Homo sapiens: one gene and its partner. The protein of the gene in region 2 purifies or fractionates together with the protein of the main gene of each other region. This does not show direct contact. Each region holds a gene or a part of one and is shown on either strand. Other genes may lie near its edges.

Region 1 (3,377 bases), on a different chromosome or scaffold from region 2:
TTTTTTTTTTTTGAGATGGAGTCTCGCTCTTATCAGCCAGGCTGGAGTGCAATGGTGCGATCTTGGCTCACTGCAAGCTCTGCCTCCTGGTTCCAAGCAATTCTCCTGCCTCAGCCTCTGAAGTAGCTGGGTTTACAGGCACCCGCCACCACACCTGGCTAATTTTTGTATTTTTAGTAGAGATGGGGTTTTACCATGTTGGCCAGGCTGGTCTCGAACTCCTGACATCAAGTGATCCACCCACCTCGGCCTCCCAAAATGCTGGGATTACAGAAGTGAGCCACTGCACCCTGCCGAAACCCAAGATTCTTATGTGAAATTCCCGTTTCTCCATGCAGCAACCAGTTCTGTTTTTTAAGACCACGGAGGCCAGGCCTGGTGCAGTGGCTCATGCCTGTAATCCCAACCCTTTGGGAGGCTGAGGCAAGAGGATTGCTTGAGGCCAGGAGATTGAGACCAGCCTGGGCAACATAGCAAGACCCCAATCTCTACAAAAACATTTAAAAATAATAGATAAATAAAATTTTAAAACCATGGACGCCAGAAAATACATTCTTGGTAGGATTTGTAAGGGTCCCCAGTTGTAATTTCTGATGCAGGAAAGAAAAAAAAATCAAGAACCAATACAGTGCACAGATGTGATTCCAAAATAGAGATTTATTTATTAAGGATTATTTAGTTTCTGCATAAAAATCTCCAATTGTTCCTCATTGGGTTTTTTCTTTTAAAACACACATCAACTCTTTTGGGGTTGCTTTGTTTGCCCCAGCACTTTAAAAAATACAGCTCTTTTTAGCGCCAGGAAGAACAGTTAAGGTTAAGGCAGTGAGGCGTTTTCTTGGATCTTAGCAGCTGAAGGGTTCATCTCTCCCCGTCAAGAGAATACACACGGTAGGTAGTTTCTTAGGTTGGAAAATCTGTCCCTGAAGGAAATAATTCTGCAGAAGAATGCAAACGGAGTCATCTATGGTCAATTGTTTGTGCCCTATAGCTTTGAAAGAAACGCCTCTTGGTCATCAAGGGCTTGCTGGTTGGTTTCAGCTGTAAAACAACAACAACAACAACAAAAAACAACCAGAAAAAAGAAAACAAACAAAAAAATCTGTCTAGCGAGACAGAAAGAGCAGGGTTTACAATAGTGCTGTGAGGCTGGGCTGTGCAAACCACATGAGAATACACACCAGTTTGCTTTTTAAAAAATCCCACATAGGGGCCCTGCATAATTTTAAATCAAACTCTTTATAGTCCTTAAAATAACAATACAGCGAGAGCCTCATAAGGTCACGTGCTTTTTTTTCTTTTTTTTCTTTTTTGAGACAGAGTTTCGCTTTTGTTGCCCAGGCTGGAATGCAGTGGCGCGATCTCGGCTACTGTAACCTCCACCTCCCAGTTTCTAGCGATTCTCCTGCCTCAGCCTCCCAAGAAGATGGGATTACAGGCGTGCGCTACCATGCCTGGCTAATTCTATATTTTTAGTAGAGATAGGGTTTCACCATGTTGGTCAGGCTGATCTCAAACCCTGACCTCAAGTAATCCACCCACCTCTTTTTTTTTTTTTTGAGACAGAGTTTCGCTCTTGTTGCCCAGGCTGGAGTGCAATGGTGCGATCTCAGCTCACTGCAACCTCCACCTCCCGGGTTCAAGCGATTCTCCTGCCTCAGCCTCCTGAGTAGCTGGAACTACAGGCGTGCGCCACCATGCCCAGCTAATTTTTTATATTTTTAGTAGCGATGGGGTTTCACCATGTTGGCCAGGCTGGTCTCAAACTCCCGACCTCAGGTGATCCACCCGCCTCAGCCTCCCAAAGTGCTGGGATTACAGGCGTGAGCCACGGTGCCCAGCCATCATGTGCTTATTTTTAAAGCGAGGTGGATGACACCATTCCCCCAGAGCTGTGTTCCTCGTTGGCAACAAAACAAAACCAAAAAACCCTAGGACTTGACTCATTAGAAGTGTTAATCGGTTTTTACCACGCTGAAATGAAGGTATAAAGTCAGTCTGTGCTGTCGTGAAATTCCAAGGAGATTTGGAAGTAAGATCATTATTTACTGGTCCTTTAGAATAGACCAAAAAAAAAAAAAAAAAAGACTTAAAAAACGAGGGCTGTCCCCTGCAGACTCTGGCAGGACCCTGGGCTGCTCTGGGGGACACAGGCCAGGGGCAGTTCACCGACTTGATTCACAGTGATTCTGGTTTGCCTGTTTCTCCATGTGGCCACGAGTCGGGGACGTGTCCAGCAGTGGGCATGCCTACACCTTGTAGTTAAGCTCAGCGTTCATCTGGGTGTACATCTCGTAGATGACATCGATGGTCGCCGTGTAGTTGACTAGGAAGAGGCGGATCTTCTCCAGGCACTCCTCCTCCGTAACATTCTGCCCCTTGGAGAGCGCTTTCAGGAAGTCAGACTTATAGGGTGCTGCGTACAGTGCTGCCTTGAGACAGGCAAGAAGGGAGGTAGGCACAGCGTTAGCGGGGGCTGAGGAGCCAGGCCAGCAGGCCAGGGTTCTGGGAGGGGTCTTCCCTGGGTCTGTGCTGGACAGGGGGTTGTGCTATTTGAGGTGTTGGAAGGGAAAGGAAAAGGGAGGTGTATTTTGAGCGACAGCAGGAAGGACATCAGCTTTCGGGACAGACAAGCCTAGATGCAAATGCCAGTCTGGGCCATCAACTAGCTGTGAGCCTTGAGCAAGTCAGTTAGCCTCTCTGAGCTTCAGCTTCCTCATCTGCAAAATGGGGATAATGGCTGCCACCTAATCGGGTTGCTTTTATAAGGATTAGGGGGCTTGTACAAAGTGCTCAGCACAGCACCAGGCATACAGTAGGCACTCAGCACAACACCAGGCACACAGTAGGTGTTCAGCATGGGTGAGTCTCTTCCCTCTGGGTTCCCTGCTCCAGAAAAGGTGAACTGCTCCTTCGGAAAACCCACTTTCTGAGTTGGGGAGACGACTGCTAAATATGCTGTAGTCTCTCTTTTGTCCTTAGGGGGGCGATACTTCCCTAAATTTCAGAGCTGCTCCCATACTTGAAAAGTACAGAGAATTCAAAATTCACAGAATTTCAGAGCCAGAAGAAAAAAGGTACAACTAGATAAAAAGCTTAGGCTAGCCAAGCACGGTGGCTCATGCCTGTAATCCCAGCACTTTGGGAGGCCGAGGTGGGCAGATCACAAGATCAGGAGTTCGAGACCAGCCTGGCCAATATGATAAAACTCCATCTCTACTAAAAATACAAAAATTAGCCAGGTGTGGTGGCTGGCATCTGTAGTCCCACTACTCGGGAGGCTGAGGCAGGAGAATTGCTTGAACCCGGGAGGCAGAGGTTGCAGTGAGCTGAGATCACGCCACTGCACTGCAGCCTGGGTGACAGAGCGAGACTCC
Region 2 (3,204 bases):
TTCAAAGCACATTTATGGAGAAGGAAAAGAAAACTGATATAATTCATATGTACTTAAAAAGCATAATTACTTTATATGTTGCCAGTAGGGATAAAAATAATTATAATGATAGCTACATTTATTGAGGTCTTTGGGCCAGGTTCAGTGCTAATTGCTTTATATAATTTATCGCAATCTGTACAGAAACTCTCTTGAGAAGATAAAGTCTTTATCCCAATTTTACAAATGAGGAATCTGGGCCTTAGAGAGGCCAAGCCACTTGCCCAAGGGCACAGAGCTAGTAAGTATAGAGCCAGAATTAATGTCTACAATGAAATGGATTGCTTTAGCTATTACAGTACTGTTTAGCTATTACAATGTTGAAATGATTTTAACTAATTATAGGGATTTCCATTAAAATAAACTCTGCATATATTAAAGATGGTATGAAGAGTATGAAGTAATGGAAAGTACAAAGGATTTAGATTTTTAAATTTAGCTTTTTGGTGTTAAGTACTTACAGTACTCACACTAGGCTACTTAAGATGCTGGAAACCTCTTTAACTGCAAGTCAGCTGTATCTGTTACTTAACCTTTCAAATGTTTGTATATAAATGAGTGTTGCCCACAGCCCTGAAAACTTGATTTTCTTAAAGGGATTTGTCTCCCCAGATTCTTGTTTATACTTCAGTTGTGAATCTTTGGTTCAAGAAATAGATTCATTATGATATGACCACAGGGATCTGATTTCTTGGTGTTTGACTCCTCAAACCCACCCGGAGGCTCCCTATTGCTGTTCATTCTAGGAAGGCTTTATAGACAAGGCTGGAGCTTAGGTGCCAGTAGTTTGAGGGCAGACATCATCACAAATGTCTGTATTCTGGGAGACTGAGGAGTTAACAGAGATGTTGTTTATAAAAGTTTAGCAGGATTTAATGGCAACTGACATGAAAGCTTTCTCTACACCCTTAGGTACAAATATTACAGATCTTTTAGGGATGCTAGGCCAAAAATTGTGTTTCTTACAAAGTCTTATGAGAAGAGCAAAGGATAACTTTGTTTATAGTTCAGACATTGGAAAAATCTTTGGGAAAAATAATGCATATTGTCTCATGGGGTGTTTTGTCTAAGTCAATAGATGTGTTCCATGCTTAAGTCTCTGGAGTTCTCTTTTTTTTCCTATTTAGTCCTCTTCTTAAGGTTATATTTTCATTGTCACTTGGTCAATGGGGGGAGCATTTAAACTGTGCTTTGGAATAATCCCTTGACCTGGATTTTTTTCCCCCTTATTTTCCAGTGATCCTGAGCAGCTGAAGAAGGAACTGAATGAACTGGTCAGTGCTATTGAAGAACATTTTTTCCAGCCACAGAAGTACAATCTGCAGCCAAAAGCAGACTAAAATAGTCCAGCCTTGGGTATACTTGCATTTACCTACAATTAAGCTGGGTTTAACTTGTTAAGCAATATTTTTAAGGGCCAAATGATTCAAAACATCACAGGTATTTATGTGTTTTACAAAGACCTACATTCCTCATTGTTTCATGTTTGACCTTTAAGGTGAAAAAAGAAAATGGCCAAACCCAACAAACTAACATTCCTACTAAAAAGTTGAGCTTGGACATATTTTGAATTTTTGTAAGTGAAGATTTTTAAACTGACTAACTTAAAAAAATAGATTGTAATTGATGTGCCTTAATTTGCATAAATCATAAATGTATGTCCTCTCTGTAATTGTTTTAATGTGTGCTTGAAATATCCAGAAAACCTATGGAGTTAGTAAATTCTGGGCTGTCATATGTAGGATAGCCACTTTTTAGGTATATGTACATTTATATTTCTATCAATTCCTTAGAAAGTAAAATAAATGAATAGATCAAATGTTGTGTTCATGTTTGGGGAAAATATAATTTGCAGAAACCTATGAAGTAGAGCAAAGATGCTTTAAAAAGATAAGTTTTTTTGAACTAAATTTTTTTTAGTTCTAATAATGCACATAGGATATTAGTACATCGTACACGTGCTAGGAAAAAACAGCTTCAGTGTCTTTGTTTAATGTGTTGAAACTCATCTTTTTAAATCTTGAAAAACCAATTGTTTACTTGAAACTTGAAAGTAGCATATTTTTCTGTTTTTTGGTTGTTTGTTCATTTGTATTAGCACAATTTAATGTAATTCCTGGTTTGGAGGCAGCAAGACCTATGAGCAAGAACTATTTACTTGACCCTCGTTTTTTTCTCTTGTTCTTGTGTGGTCTGAAATCTAAAACTAGACTTTATTATGATAGATTTCCTATAAGCCAATTTCTAATAACAAATAGATTTATTATTTAATCTGTACCTTCTATCTTCTCATAATTCGTGGTCTTACAGCCTTCCAAAATAACTCCAGTTGGGCACCCATGAGCTAGGATCAAACTTTCTTTATATACTTTATATATTTTACATTATTTCTGATTTTTAAAGCAAATGATTGCCATTATGATTACACTCAACCTAAATAGTTATGAACAGTTTCAGAACAATGAAAAATTACAATACTATGTGATAGTATTGTAACTATTTTTCTATTTTAGTCATATGTCGCTTATATCCTACCAGAACTCTTAAATCTATAATATTCGATATATTCTACAAACTGCTTTATTGTAGAAGCCATATTTATGTTTATTTTATAATGTTTTCTAGTGTCAAACTGTACTGTGGAGAAAAGAAATGTTAGATCTGTGTTCTGTCTGCATTTTTTTTGAGTACATACCCTTCACCCTCTCATGGAGTTTGTTTCTGGAAATACGAAGTTGATTATGACCCAATCCTGCTATGATGGAACTCAGTCTGATTGGAGGGCTAATAAGTAACAGCAATACTTACAAATTCTATCATAGTGTTTTTTACAAGTATTCAGCGTTCAGAAATCTGAGGGAGGGATTCATGCTGCCCAAAGAAAGCCTCATAGATGAGGTGCTGAATGAAATGCTTCACCCTTAGGGATGAGGAGCAGCTGAAGATGGGAAAGAAAGCCTTCCAAGCAGAGAGCACAGCACGGACAAAAATGTGGAGGCTGTAGCAAGTGGGGGTAGGGGAAGCAAGGGGAGATGACGAAAACAGAAGCCAAGATGGAAACTTTAGAATGCATCCCACCTCTCTACCACTCACATGAGCGGATGATTTCACTGGACCTAGAGGGGATGCGCCCGAACTCTATTTGTCGCCCGTATTTCTAAGAAA

What was found.
Region 1: the proteins of PGM2 (region 2) and GLTP fractionate together in Homo sapiens (co-fractionation; one large-scale study listed by BioGRID). This does not show direct contact.

Annotation. Positions count from the first base shown.
Region 1 is NC_000012.12:109,850,306-109,853,682, forward strand, and holds the end of GLTP (glycolipid transfer protein), read right to left. Parts: intron 2,433-3,377; coding exon 2,250-2,432; 3' UTR 640-2,249; downstream 1-639. UniProt on the Homo sapiens protein: Accelerates the intermembrane transfer of various glycolipids. Catalyzes the transfer of various glycosphingolipids between membranes but does not catalyze the transfer of phospholipids. May be involved in the intracellular translocation of glucosylceramides.
Region 2 is NC_000004.12:37,860,234-37,863,437, forward strand, and holds the end of PGM2 (phosphopentomutase), read left to right. Parts: intron 1-1,276; coding exon 1,277-1,379; 3' UTR 1,380-2,704; downstream 2,705-3,204. UniProt on the Homo sapiens protein: Catalyzes the conversion of the nucleoside breakdown products ribose-1-phosphate and deoxyribose-1-phosphate to the corresponding 5-phosphopentoses.